4 linked regions of the Homo sapiens genome follow. The protein of the gene in region 1 purifies or fractionates together with the protein of each later gene. This does not show direct contact. Each region holds a gene or a part of one and is shown in the gene's direction. Other genes may lie near its edges.

Evidence for each region. The genes of interacting proteins can lie anywhere in the genome.
Region 2: the proteins of MPST (region 1) and PPA2 fractionate together in Homo sapiens (co-fractionation; one large-scale study listed by BioGRID). This does not show direct contact.
Region 3: the proteins of MPST (region 1) and GLRX5 fractionate together in Homo sapiens (co-fractionation; one large-scale study listed by BioGRID). This does not show direct contact.
Region 4: the proteins of MPST (region 1) and SRI fractionate together in Homo sapiens (co-fractionation; one large-scale study listed by BioGRID). This does not show direct contact.

The regions. Positions count from the first base shown.
Region 1 is NC_000022.11:37,022,742-37,026,241, forward strand, and holds part of MPST (3-mercaptopyruvate sulfurtransferase), read left to right. Parts: intron 1-1,010; exon of another isoform or gene 1,011-1,186; intron 1,187-1,450; coding exon 1,451-2,069; intron 2,070-3,500. UniProt on the Homo sapiens protein: Transfer of a sulfur ion to cyanide or to other thiol compounds. Also has weak rhodanese activity. Detoxifies cyanide and is required for thiosulfate biosynthesis. Acts as an antioxidant.
Region 2 is NC_000004.12:105,397,563-105,401,062, reverse strand, and holds part of PPA2 (inorganic pyrophosphatase 2, mitochondrial isoform 1 precursor), read left to right. Parts: intron 1-1,898; coding exon 1,899-2,026; intron 2,027-3,500.
Region 3 is NC_000014.9:95,538,050-95,541,549, forward strand, and holds part of GLRX5 (glutaredoxin-related protein 5, mitochondrial precursor), read left to right. Parts: intron 1-3,500.
Region 4 is NC_000007.14:88,207,327-88,210,038, reverse strand, and holds part of SRI (sorcin), read left to right. Parts: coding exon 1-56; intron 57-586; coding exon 587-700; intron 701-1,473; coding exon 1,474-1,532; coding exon of another isoform or gene 1,533-1,550; exon of another isoform or gene 1,551-1,844; intron 1,845-2,712. UniProt on the Homo sapiens protein: Calcium-binding protein that modulates excitation-contraction coupling in the heart. Contributes to calcium homeostasis in the heart sarcoplasmic reticulum. Modulates the activity of RYR2 calcium channels.

The DNA.
Region 1 (3,500 bases):
CACAGATGTTGTTCTCTACCTGCCCCCTTCATTTCGCTGGCAGGACTGCATGCAGTGGGTGTCAAGGTTGGGCCTCACACAGGGGATAAGTGAGGGCTGATCTGCAGCCCATACTCCACACACCCAGCCATGTGCCCTGGTGGGGGCTCAGCCTCTGCCTGGCAGAAGGGGCCCTTTCCTCTCACCTGCACAACGGTGGCTTCCCAGCACAAAGGGCTTAAAGTGTTTGGGAAGTTTACACCCAGGAAGGCTGTGGGCTGGCCTGGCATAGTGGGCTGGCGAGCTGGTGCACTGTCTCTGGTATGCAGGAAAGATAGAGAGGAGAGGGAGGGAGGTGCGAAGTCACTGTTGCTGCTGCTAGAAGGGCCAGAGAGAGCCCAGGCTGGACAGGCAAAACCTGGCCTCGCCAGACTCCTGGAGCCTGCACAGAGTGTGTGTCTGAGAAGTCCGGATTCTGGTGCCAGACTGACTGCCTAGTGAGAAGCCTGGCACCGCCGGGTCAGGCTAGTGCACTTTTTCTTGTTTGTTTTTTGTTTTTGAGACAGAGTTTTGCTCTTGTTCCCCAGGCTGGATTGCAATGGCACGATCTCGGCTCACTGCAACCTCCGCCTCCTGGGTTCAAGCAGTTCTCCTGCCTCAGCCTCCCGAGTAGCTGGGATTACAGGTGCCCTCCACTAAGCCCGGCTAATTTTTTGTATTTTTGGTAGAGACGGGGTTTCACCATGTTGGCCAGACTGGTTTCAAACTTCTGACCTCAGGTGATCCACCTGCCTGGGCCTCCCAAAGTGCTGGGATTACAAGCGTGAGCCACCGCACCAGGCCAGGTTAGTGCACTTCTGTGAGCCTGAGTGTCCTCCTTGAAACGGTGACAATAATATACCAGGCCTCTTAAGATCACTCATTCAACACATACTGGAGAGTCTACTGTGTCAGGCATTGTTCTAGGATATTGTTAGGATTCAGTGGTACCCAGCAAGGACTCAGTAAATTCCAGCTACTGTTCCTATTAGGTCGCCAATATAAATGCTTGATGAGTGAATGAATGACTTCCGTCTGGGACTTGGTTGCAAATAAAGCCGAGCTGCATCTTAGGGAGGGGTGGAGACTTTGCCCCTGTTTGTGCCTTGAAGCCAGCAGGGCCTTGCCCTAGGATACCTCCACCCACCCTCCTGCCCAGCAAGTGGAGGTGAGGGGCGTGGCCTGGGGCTCTCCGGGAGGTCATGGTCATTGGGTCACTCGGAGCTTGTGTTTATATGAGGCCTGGCAGAGGGAGGCCCCTGGCTACCCACCTTTGTGCCCGGGTTCACCACCACTGGTTTCTGCGTTCCCTGGACTCTGCCCTGCACGGGCCGCACCTCCCCCGCCGGCCCTCGCCCATGCTCCAGCCCCAGCCCTAGCCCCAACAGCGGCCTCTCCCTGCTTCCCTTCTGACATCCTCCCTGTCGCCCAGGCCCGCAGCCCGAGTGTCGCCGCCATGGCTTCGCCGCAGCTCTGCCGCGCGCTGGTGTCGGCGCAATGGGTGGCGGAGGCGCTGCGGGCCCCGCGCGCTGGGCAGCCTCTGCAGCTGCTGGACGCCTCCTGGTACCTGCCGAAGCTGGGGCGCGACGCGCGACGCGAGTTCGAGGAGCGCCACATCCCGGGCGCCGCTTTCTTCGACATCGACCAGTGCAGCGACCGCACCTCGCCCTACGACCACATGCTGCCCGGGGCCGAGCATTTCGCGGAGTACGCAGGCCGCCTGGGCGTGGGCGCGGCCACCCACGTCGTGATCTACGACGCCAGCGACCAGGGCCTCTACTCCGCCCCGCGCGTCTGGTGGATGTTCCGCGCCTTCGGCCACCACGCCGTGTCACTGCTTGATGGCGGCCTCCGCCACTGGCTGCGCCAGAACCTCCCGCTCAGCTCCGGCAAGAGCCAACCTGCTCCCGCCGAGTTCCGCGCTCAGCTCGACCCCGCCTTCATCAAGACCTACGAGGACATCAAGGAGAACCTGGAATCCCGGCGCTTCCAGGTGGTGGACTCCCGAGCCACTGGCAGGTTCCGCGGCACCGAGCCCGAGCCCCGAGACGGTAACGCGGGGGAAGGGGGCAGGAGGTCGTCGGGGGCGCGGCCTCTACGCCCTGAGCAGTGCCCTGGACTTGACCTTTCTTTTATTTTTTTAATTTATCTTGCTTTCATTTCCTTTCCTTTTTTCTTTCCTTTCCTTCCCTTTCCCTTCCCTCCTTTCCCCCTTTTCCCTACCCTTGCCTTCTTTTCACAGGGTCTGGCTCTACCGCCCAGGCTGGAGTGCAGTGGCACAATCATGGCTCACTGCAGCCTCAACCTCCTGGGCTCAGGTGACCCTCCCCGCTCAGCCTGACCTTGCCTTTAAAGGCCACTGCATGAGGTGGGGAAGGAGATTTGACTTCCACTTGCCTCGGTGACTTTGTCTGTTAAGCAGAACCATAATACTGGCCCTTCCCCTCCTGTGCTTTGGGCAGTGACTCTCCCTAGCTCATTGGGAACCCTGGTTGCCCAAACAGCTCTCAATCCAACACTAGAGGTGTGGGGGGTCACTGTGGAATGTTGGGGGGCAGGCCCCAGTATGAGAGAAAAACCCAGAGGGATGGTCCTGATCAGGGCTACCCATGCCCCTGAGGATGGTGGAATGAAGGCAGAGTCGGGGGCTGCATAAAGGAAAGTCTCTTCCAGGGACCAAAGCTTGGAGAACTGAGGGTGGAAGGGGGATTAAACAGAAGTGGGTAGGGCAGAGCCTTCTGCCTGTGGGCTGGATTTCCTCAGGCAAGAAGCCTGTGGGTAAGCTCTGTATAATGCGAGGAGGAGTCCCCACAAAGCAGGCTGGTCAGTGGTCACGCTAGTGTGAGTCTTTCAAACATCCCGTGTAAGTAGATACTGTCATTGCACAGAGGAGGAAATGGAACCTGGCCCAAGGTCTCAAGAAACAACCCAGCCGGGATTCAGACTCGGCAGCCTGCGCACTTAACAGCCGTGAGCAACCAGGAACTCCCCAGCCCTTTCTCTTGTGCCTTCAAGAGTGCAAGAAACTGACCACTGCCCCTAGAGAGCTCTCTGAAGAGCATTCCCATGGCTACAGATTGGGTTTGGAGCCGCTTGGGCTCACCATGGGCCAGCATTGTTTTGGATGGCCTGAGGGCAAGGACTGTCCCTGCTCTTCATGCATCCTGAAGATTAGCTCAGTACCTGGCACAGAGTCGATGTTCCAGAGAGGTTTGGTGAATACAGAAGGTCCCTGTTGCATGGAATCCTGCAAAGCAATGTTGGTGTTACCGGAACCATAGGAAACAGCTGATATCCAACCATTTTTGAACCTACACAGGTGTCAGTTTCATGTGGTTCAGCCTAATGAGAGCACCACCTTAATCCTGTTGGGTTCTCCATCTCAGCCCCAGGGGAATGAGCAACACAGGGGAGCTAGCTGGTGGTGCCAGACTGGGGTTCAGATCCCTGCCACATTTACATGGGCTTTGTGACACACGACG
Region 2 (3,500 bases), on another chromosome or scaffold:
TATAAGAATTTGGCTTCAGGCATTTGCTATTGAGGTTTTAAAAATGTTTAAATATCTTACTGTAATTTTTTTGTTTTGTTATTTGGGACAATGCAGCTGTTTTCTCCTAGGGTATAATTAGTTGAGAATGGAAAAGTTTAGCTTATATTTGGAGAGTTATACTTCTTATTTCCATTATAAAATTTTCAGTTTTTTTCCTAATTTGTGTCTTTGCTTATTGGGTCCTCTTTATGACTTTTGGGGAGAAAGCCTCCTAGACTGAGGTAGATATTAGATAATTAGCTTTCTCTTTCTCCTTGGAAGTCAGTGAGTTAAGTAACAAAAATCATACAAAAGTTATATGATTTGTAAAAGTTATATACAGTGGAAGAGAAAATGTTAGTTTGAGTAAGGTACAACGATGAAGTCATAAATCAGATTTAAGCAACAGAAAATTATTTATTGCTTTGTTGCCCAGGCTGGAGTGCAATGGCGTGATCTTGGCTGACTACAGCCTCCACCTCCTGGACTAATGCATTTCTCCTGCCTCAGCCTCCTGAGTAGCTTGGACTATAGGCAATCACCACCATGTCCAGCTAATTTTTTTTGTATTTTTAGTAGATATGGGGTTTCACCATGTTGGCCAGACTGGTCTCAAACTCCTGACCTCAGGTGATCCCAAAGTGCTGGGATTACAGACATGAGCCACCACACCTGGCCTAGAAAATTATTTATCTTGGGCATTGATTAAATTGCATTTCTAGACACTCGCCGTCAGTAGACTAAAAGATTTTTTTCCCCTCTGAATAAGAAAACCGTTCGTTCAAGGAACTCAATATTAATTAATTTTTGCAAAACATCCCTGTTTGTTTTGTTATAACAAAACAGTATAATTTTAATATGCTCTAATAAATATATTGTATACAATACAATATGCTGTGACAATATACTGTAATAAAATTACCAGCACCACTACTCTCGTGCTTTGTGGCCATTCTGAAGCAAAATAAAGGTTAACTGAACACAAGCACTGCCATATCAAGACAGTGGATCTGCTAACTGAGAAGGCTACTAAGTGACTAATGGTGGGTAGTATATAGAATGTGGCCACACTGGGCAAAGGGATGATTCATGTCTTGGACAGGATGGAGCAGGACAGTGCAAGATTTCATCAGGCTACTCAGAATGGTATGCAATTTAAAACTTATGAATTGTTTATTTCTGGAATTTTCCATTTAATATTTCTGGATTCAGTTGACTGTAGGTAACTGAAACTGCAGAAAACAAAACCGTGGATAAAGGGAGATTGCTGTGTATATGATCCTCAGTGACTGGCTTTTCCTAGGTGTCTCCTCCCTCTCCCCTGCCTCCTAACAGTGATGTTCTATCCATGCAGAACCATCTTTGTATATTCTAAAATATAGTCCCTTGCTTTTATGTGTGCTGTTCCTTCTACCTTTTCCCCTCTTGTCCAGTTAGTGATGTACTTCTCACTTTTATAATGCTTTCTTTTACTCCCTCTTCTATGACATTACCATTGCTTCTGTTTATCTCTGTTAAAACCTCATTGCATTTTAATTGCAGTTTATCTATTTGTCTCTTTCCCTGAGTTAAAAACTGAGTATCTTGATGAAAAGAACTTTGTTGTATCCATCCATTTATTCCCCATACATAGCACATTGTCTGAAGATGCTTTGTAAATGTTTGTAGAGTGCAGGAATAGTATTATACATATGAAAACACAAAAGTCTGAAGGTGATATACATATCAATGATGATGCTGCTCTAGGTATCACAATCAATTGTGCTTCTGGTTAGACTGGGCCCCATGTTTCCTGGCTCCCTCAGTCCAATGCTCTGCCACTAAAGGGAATTAATTTTGGTTCTTAACAAAACATCTTTTTGTTTTTTTCTTTACAGATATTGATGATGTTAAGAAGTTCAAACCGGGTTACCTGGAAGCTACTCTTAATTGGTTTAGATTATATAAGGTACCAGATGGAAAACCAGAAAACCAGTTTGCTTTTAATGGAGAATTCAAAAACAAGGTGAAGATGAGAATCTTTATTTTAAAATGTACCTCCTGATACCTGTACAATATTCGTTTCACTTGGGAAGTTTCTTATGTGAATATGTATATATAGCATGGTTAAAAAAGTGCTTTTTACTAACTTACATATTTAAAAACATTATTTTATTATTTAAATTCTGTTTCAGAAGATCTAAGTGAATCAACAAGGCTGAAAAATATATATTTCCATCTATGTGTCTATAGCTCCTACGTCTTGGAAAATGAAGGAATTTCATGATCAGACTAATTTTGCAAATTGTGTACATAGAAAAACTTTCTATTTACTGTTTTGTGGAGGAGAAAGTTACTCACCCTTAATGTAAATCCATAGGGGACTCCCTCCTAAGTGTTCATTCTACCACGACGGAACTAAGCTGCTTAACAATTGAAAGGACACCTGAATTATCTTACTGTCATAGGATTTTTCTATTAGAATACCACTGAGTTACCACAAAGTATCTCTAATATGACACAGATGGAGAGAATAGACCAAAGAGTTAAAGTCTAAAGCATGGAATTTTTTTTAAAGTTATTACCACTAGGTAAATTGAATATTTGAAACCAACTTTTAAGTGGATACCAGTAAGTATGTTTTATAAGTGAAATAAGGCATGTTAATGAAAACTTAAAATTTATAATGGGTATTTTGCTGTAAAAGAATTGATTGCTGGACTCAGTGTTTTTTTGAAAGCACATTAAAAGAATCCTTCAAATCTTGAGGGCTTTGTCTGGGATTATTAAATGTAAATATAAAATTATTATTTTAGATTAAATTATCTTAAAGGATTGAAAATTTATACATTATTTTTCTTTTAAAAATTTTCATTTTATTATTGAGATAATTGAAATTTTAAACCTATATGGTATTTTTGCCTCAGGGTAAGTCTGCCAAGTCACGAATTTGTAAAGAATGAGGTAGTTTTTTTTTGTTTGTTTTTAACAAATAGTAATTCTTTTCTGTATAAAGATGAGGTCATTTATACAACTTCACCAGAAAATAATTGTTTTATGCATTGCTTTTTACTACTGCTATTTAAAATATAGAGCCTTAGTGCCCTTAGTATTGCTATGAAAGAACTGCTGAGGCTGGGTAATTTATAAAGAAAAGGTTTATTTAGCTCACAGTCCTACAGGCTATACCAGAAGCATGGTGCTGGCATCTGCTTCTGGTAAGAACCTCAGAAAGCTTCCAGTCATGCCAAAAGATGAAGGGGGAGCAGGCATGCCACAGGGTGAGAGAGGAAGCAAGTGAGAGAGGTGGAAGGTGCCCAGGCTCTTTTTAACAATCAGTTCTTGTGGGAACTAACAGCAAGAACTCACTCATTACTCTGAGGAGGCACCAAGCCATTCATGAGGGATCCACCCCCATTATCCATACACCTCCCATTAGGCCTCACTTCCAACACTGCGGATCAAATTTGAACATGAGATTTGAGAGGACAAATCCCCTC
Region 3 (3,500 bases), on another chromosome or scaffold:
TAATTTATGGAAACTATTGTATTAACATTTAGATCTAGTTCCTAACAGTTTTTTTTTTTTTAACACATTGAGACCATGCTTGTCTATACATAGTATTTTGCCCTCCAGAGACGAGGGAATATGTCTTATGCCACTGCCTGTGGTGCTGTGTGTACCGCTTATGCAAAGCAAGCTTTCAGTGAGCATTTTAATAAATAAATAAATACTGCTTTTATTTATCATTATATTGCAAACTCTGCGGCCTTAAAGGCATTATAAACATTTGCTGCCGATTTAGATCATCATTGTAGTCCTTGCATCTGGAACAGTGACAGAATAGGGACTCAAATGATTTGTTGAATAAATAACCATATCCTGTTGTTGAATGTTTATTAAGCATTTGAAAATACGCTCCACCTTTTCAGTATCAGGGAATTGAAGACAGTAGTGAAACATGTCATGCTGGTGAACCTTAAAAGTTGGATAACAAGTTGTGTGTATGTGCTTGTGTGGTGCACATGTATGCTGCAGATGGGAGTATAAAATGGTACCAACACTTTGGAGGAGTAACTATCAGTACCCAGTCAAGCTATGGGTGAACAGAGCCTAAGACCCAGCTGCGTGACTCCTAGGTATATATTCTAGAGAGGGGGATCTGCAAACTTACCCTAGTAAAGGGCCAGAGACTAAGTACGTCAGGCTTTGTGGGCTGTGTGGTTTTTGTTGCATCTATTCAACTCTGCTGTTATATAGCCTGAAGTCAGTCATGGGCAATATGTAGATGAATGAGCAGGCTGAGTTTCAATAAAACTTTATTTATGAAAATACAGCTTTAATTACGAAGTAGACTGGATTTGGCCTGAAGACCATAGTTTATCTGTCCCTGGCCTAGAGACTGACTTCTGCATGTGTGTGTTAGGACATGGGTCCCCAACCCCCAGGCCAGGGATCGAGGACTTACAGCAGGAGGTAAGCGGTGGGTAAGTGAGCTTTACCGCCTGAGCTCCGCCTCCTGCCACATCAGTGACGACATTAGGTTCTCATAGGAGCACAAACTCTATTGTGAACTGCACATGTGAGGAATCTAGGTTGTGCGTTCCTTACGAGAATGTAACTAATGCCTGATGATGTGAGGTGGAACCGTTTCATCCCGAAGCTATCCCCACCCTTCCCTGGTCCGTGGAAAAATTGTCTTCCACAAAACCAGTCCCTGGTGCCAAAAAGGTTGGGGACCTCTGTGTTAGGATACCTGTGTTGGCGCGTTCATTGCAGCATGGCTTGCAATAATGAAAAACTGACAGGAAGGGATCTTGGTCTATTAGCAGCAGACCAGATAAATAAACTTTAGTCACATGATGGAAAGCTAAACTGTAGTTAAAATGAACTAGATCTAGATGTATTTAACATGGCTGAATCTCAAAAATACAATATTTAGTCAAAAAGCAAGTTGCAAACACGTAATTATGGCATAATACCATTTGTATATGTAAATGTTAAAGGCATAAAACAGTCCCATATATTGCAGATATGTGTGCAGTGCACTTGTAGCTCCTGGGCAGGAGTGAGATGGCAGCTAGAGGGTAGAGGCCACCTCTGGTGAGGGACTCAGGTAGCATGTGGTTAAGAGTCTGGGCTTTTGTACTCCTGGAAGCCTGGATATAAATCCTGGTTTCACTGCGCTGTCACTGTGAGTTTCGGTAAGTTACTTAACCCTTCTGAGCCTTAGTTTCTTCATCTTATGTAAAGTAGGGATAATTGTACCTGCCTTGTCAGATTTTTGTAAAGATTAAATAAGATTATTTTTGTAAAACGCTTAAAGAGTATGAAACTCAGTAATCCTTAACTCAATAAATGGTATATATATATATATTTTTTTTTTTTTGAGAGAGTGTTACTCTGCTGCCTAGGCTGAAGTGCAGGGGGCAATCTCGGCTCACTGCCACCCCTGCCTCCCGGGTTCAAGCGATTCTCCTGCCTCAGCCTCCCAAGGAGCTGGGATTGCAGGCACCTGGCACCATGCCTGGCTAATTTTTTTTATTTTTAGTAGGGACAGGGTTTCACCATGTTGGCCAGGCTGGTCTTGAACTCCTGACCTCAGGTGATGCACCAGCCTTGGCCTCCCAAAGTGCTGGGATTACAGGTGTGAGCCACCGCACCTGGCCTGAATGGCGTTTTCATTACTTTAGGGTATACTTAATCACTTTTTCCTGCTTTATTTTCCTATGCTTTTTCTGTTGCCTTTCTCAGAAAAGCATTACTGTGAAGGGTGGGTGGTGGAGCATGTTGGTATGGAGAGAATGTCCACACTGTACCTGGTACTATGCTGGGAGCTCAATTCATTTCATTCCTTAGATATCATGGAATCTTCATAATATGTGAGGCGTAGAGTATATTCCCATTTTACAGATGAGGAAACTGAGGCTAAAAGATTAACAGATTTGTCTGAGGCTACATTTACAGGCTAGCAAACCAGATCTACTGATCCTTAAGCCTGTGCCTTGCCCACTCTGCCCCGTGCCTTGCTTTTCCTCTAGTGAGGGTCTACTGATTTCCGTGCTTTCAGCTCAGATCATCTTATCTCGACTTAACGCCATTCTCTAAATTAGAGAATATGAAGAAATTGTGACTCTCAGAGGTGGTGTAACTTGCCCAAGATCACAGAGTCTAGTAGGTAAGAGACAGAGTTGGAACTCATATCAGATTCTGAAGCTACTGTAGTGAGGTTCTACCAGGAAAAATAAAAAGAAAGAAAACTATGATTATGCTGCTCTCGTAATTTAGTGTCCAAATCAGGAGTAATGCCCAGTGTTCTGAATGTGATGAATTTTGAAAAATACCTTTTGAAAGTTCTGGAAGGGAATTTTAAAGTATCATTTCTGTACTCTTTCTGGGTTGATACTTTGGAATATGAATTTGTTTGTATGGGTTTTTTTGGTGGAGCATTAGATGCGTGTAAACTGACTTTGTAAGATAGCCTCCTAACTCCCAGTTCCTAGTGTTACTCTGCCATATAACTTTGCAGTCAGCATTTTCTGCCCCAGATGGAATCACCACCGTCTATCACATATGAAATAATGATTATCATTAAAATTCATTCTTGGATGTGATTTTCTAATTTTCAGGAGTAGCTCTCTGATTCTGAGTTAATTTCAAGTGATATTTGTAAGAACTACCACTGCATATTGCAGTTTTTGAAAACTAAAGTGTGAGAGAGATTAACCATGTGTAAACAGTTACTTGTGGATCCGCAGGATTCATTTTAATATTCAACTTATGAAGAGTAGTCTTTTATTATTATTAGGAGTTTCTCACTTCACTCTATAGGAAGCAATTGGGTATTTCCTTAAATATTTAAACTGGTAATCAACTTTCTTAAAAATGGAAAAGAGCATAGTCATTAAGAAGGGTGCCAACGTTTGGCCTTGATGCCAGCTGCCTATTACACCTATTCATCTAAAAATTAAAGAAGCAGCTAAGTTTAATTTTGATAAACCGTCAGCTGCTGTCAAGAACAGGCAGGT
Region 4 (2,712 bases), on another chromosome or scaffold:
TGACAGGAGTGGAACAGTAGACCCACAAGAATTGCAGAAGGCCCTGACAACAATGGGTAGGTATGGCTTACTAGAACTCTCCATTCATTGGTAGAAGTAAGTTGATTTTTATTTTTAAAACCAGGCTGGGTGCAGTGGCTCACACCTGTAATCCCAGCACTTTGGGAGGCCAAGGAGGGTGGATTGCCTGAGCTCGGGAGTTCGAGACCAGCCTGGGCAACACAGTAAAACCCCGACTCTACTAAAATACAGAAACATTAGCTGGGCGTGGTGGCATGCACCTGCAGTCCCAGCTACTCGGGAGGCTAAGACAGGAGAATCACTTGAACACAGGAGGCAGAGGTTGCTGTGAGCCGAGATCACACCACTGCACTCCAGCCTGGGCGAGAGTGAGACTCCCTCTCGTAAATAAATAAATAAATAAATAATTGCTACCTGAAGGCAGTTTCTGTTTTCTTAGAAATTGTGTGTGTTCATAATTAATATGAGTCTGCAGTCTTAAAAAATAAAATAGTGCTTGATTATTTTATTTTTTAATGAGCTTCTGCAATCCTTTAACCTTTTTACTGGATGGCTTTTCTTTTAGGATTTAGGTTGAGTCCCCAGGCTGTGAATTCAATTGCAAAACGATACAGCACCAATGGAAAGATCACCTTCGACGACTACATCGCCTGCTGCGTCAAACTGAGGGCTCTTACAGGTGAGTTCTATAAGGTCGTGTCATCACCACAAGCCAAGACACAGTTTTTATTACATTTCATCTCTCAGTGCTTCTCAACTTTTATTCTTCCCAAATTTTTTCTTGCTTTAGTAGTTTTTTTCAGATTACTATTAAGCATATCTGGCAAAATAATTTTTTGGTTTTTTTTCCAGAATTTATTTTAGATTAGTAAGTAATCTGCCATTAAAATAAACAATTAAATTTTACTAAAATGTTCTAAAACACAATCAGCTAACTTGTGCATTTTTGATCAGATAATAATGAATTTTTCCCCAGAATGTGAAATATTTGGAAAGAGTGAAATTAAAATAAAATCCTTTTCTATAGGGCAGAGCTGAAATGGTAGAGAAACTGATTACAGCCCATTTGTTATATTGGGGACTCTTTATCTGTTTCTTAAGCAGTATCTTTGTTATTAAGAAGCTAGAAATTCGGTGCTTTTATCACAATGAAGTAATGGCCATGGAAGTTGCACAGCTTTTACTGACTTTGGGTAAGGTATTTTCTCCAGATCTAAAAAAACAAAAAAACAAAAAACACAGCTGGCCAACTTCTGCCTGTTACTTTGTTGCATATTAAATCTTTTACTATTCATATAGTTGGCTTCTTTGCTTTGGTCTTTTGTTTATGTTAATTGGTTGCACAATTTAAATGTTACTGCAATGTGAATTCAATGCCAAAATAACTAACTTTTATGATTTTAGAAAAACCATTTAAAGAAAAACCATAAATTTTACTGTGTTGTTTTACAGACAGCTTTCGAAGACGGGATACTGCTCAGCAAGGTGTTGTGAATTTCCCATATGATGATGTAAGTCTTAGAAATTAAGAGATACAGTAGATGAAAAGGATGTACACCAGATGGGTATCCCTTTGAAATTAGCTGTTAAGAATATCTTAAGGTTAAGGATGCCAGAGACATAAGGGATTCAAAAGTTAGAAAGAGTTATCATCCAGAATTTATTAATTTCATTTATTAGTCTTAACTATAGTGAGACCATGATTTGATTTGCATTCAGAGACCTGGGTTCAAGACCCAGCTTGTTGTATTTATTAGCTGGGTCACTTAAGCAGGTTTCTTAATTGCTGTGACACTATATGAATAAAGAAGATATAGTAGTAATGCCTTTTTCACTGAGCCATTGTAAGATTTCTATTAGAAATGCCCTTGAAAAACACTATGCAGATATACTATCTGCTTTTGTCTTCTGTAAACAAATCATGTCAGTCACTGAGAATAGATAACAGCTCAATAGTTTTGCATACCTATGTTCTTCATTGAGGGCATAAGGCAGGCAACAACTTAAATCACAATTTTTTTTTTTTTTTTGAGATGGAGTCTCGCTCTGTTGCCCAGGTTGGAGTGCAGTGGCGCAATGTCAGCTCACTGCAACCTCCACGTCTCGGGTTCTAGCGATTCTCCTGCCTCAGCCTCCTGAGGGACTATAGGCATGTGCCACCATACCTGGTTAAGTTTTTTTGTATTTTTAGTAGAGACGGGGTTTCACTGTGTTAGCCAGGATGGTCTCGATCTCCTGTCCTTGTGATCTGTCCGCTTAGGCCTCCCAAAGTGCTGGGATTACAGGCGTGAGCCACTGCTCCCGGCTAAATCACAATTTAAAACAAGTTATTTACTAAACAGCCAAACTAAACAAGGGTAGGGTAAGGCCATGTAATCAGTGTGAACATAACCTAGTGCCATCTTTGATGGCATTAGCTGGATGTATATAACAAAGCTAGAGAGATTGGTTACTTGTTTCTTCAGTTTTTGCTCAGCCATTGATTTAAAAACAAAAAACAAACAAACAAAAAAACTTGTAGAATTGAAATGACTGTAATCACTGAATATTCCATTCTCCATTACAAAATATAAGATGCATGTATTTTTGGTTTAGCAGCTGCTGCAGTTATAAGTACACTTTTAAAAGCTTAGTATGTGTGTGTGAATATGCTTATTTTACCTGCTTAAGGGTGTGTTCTCTTTAACATGC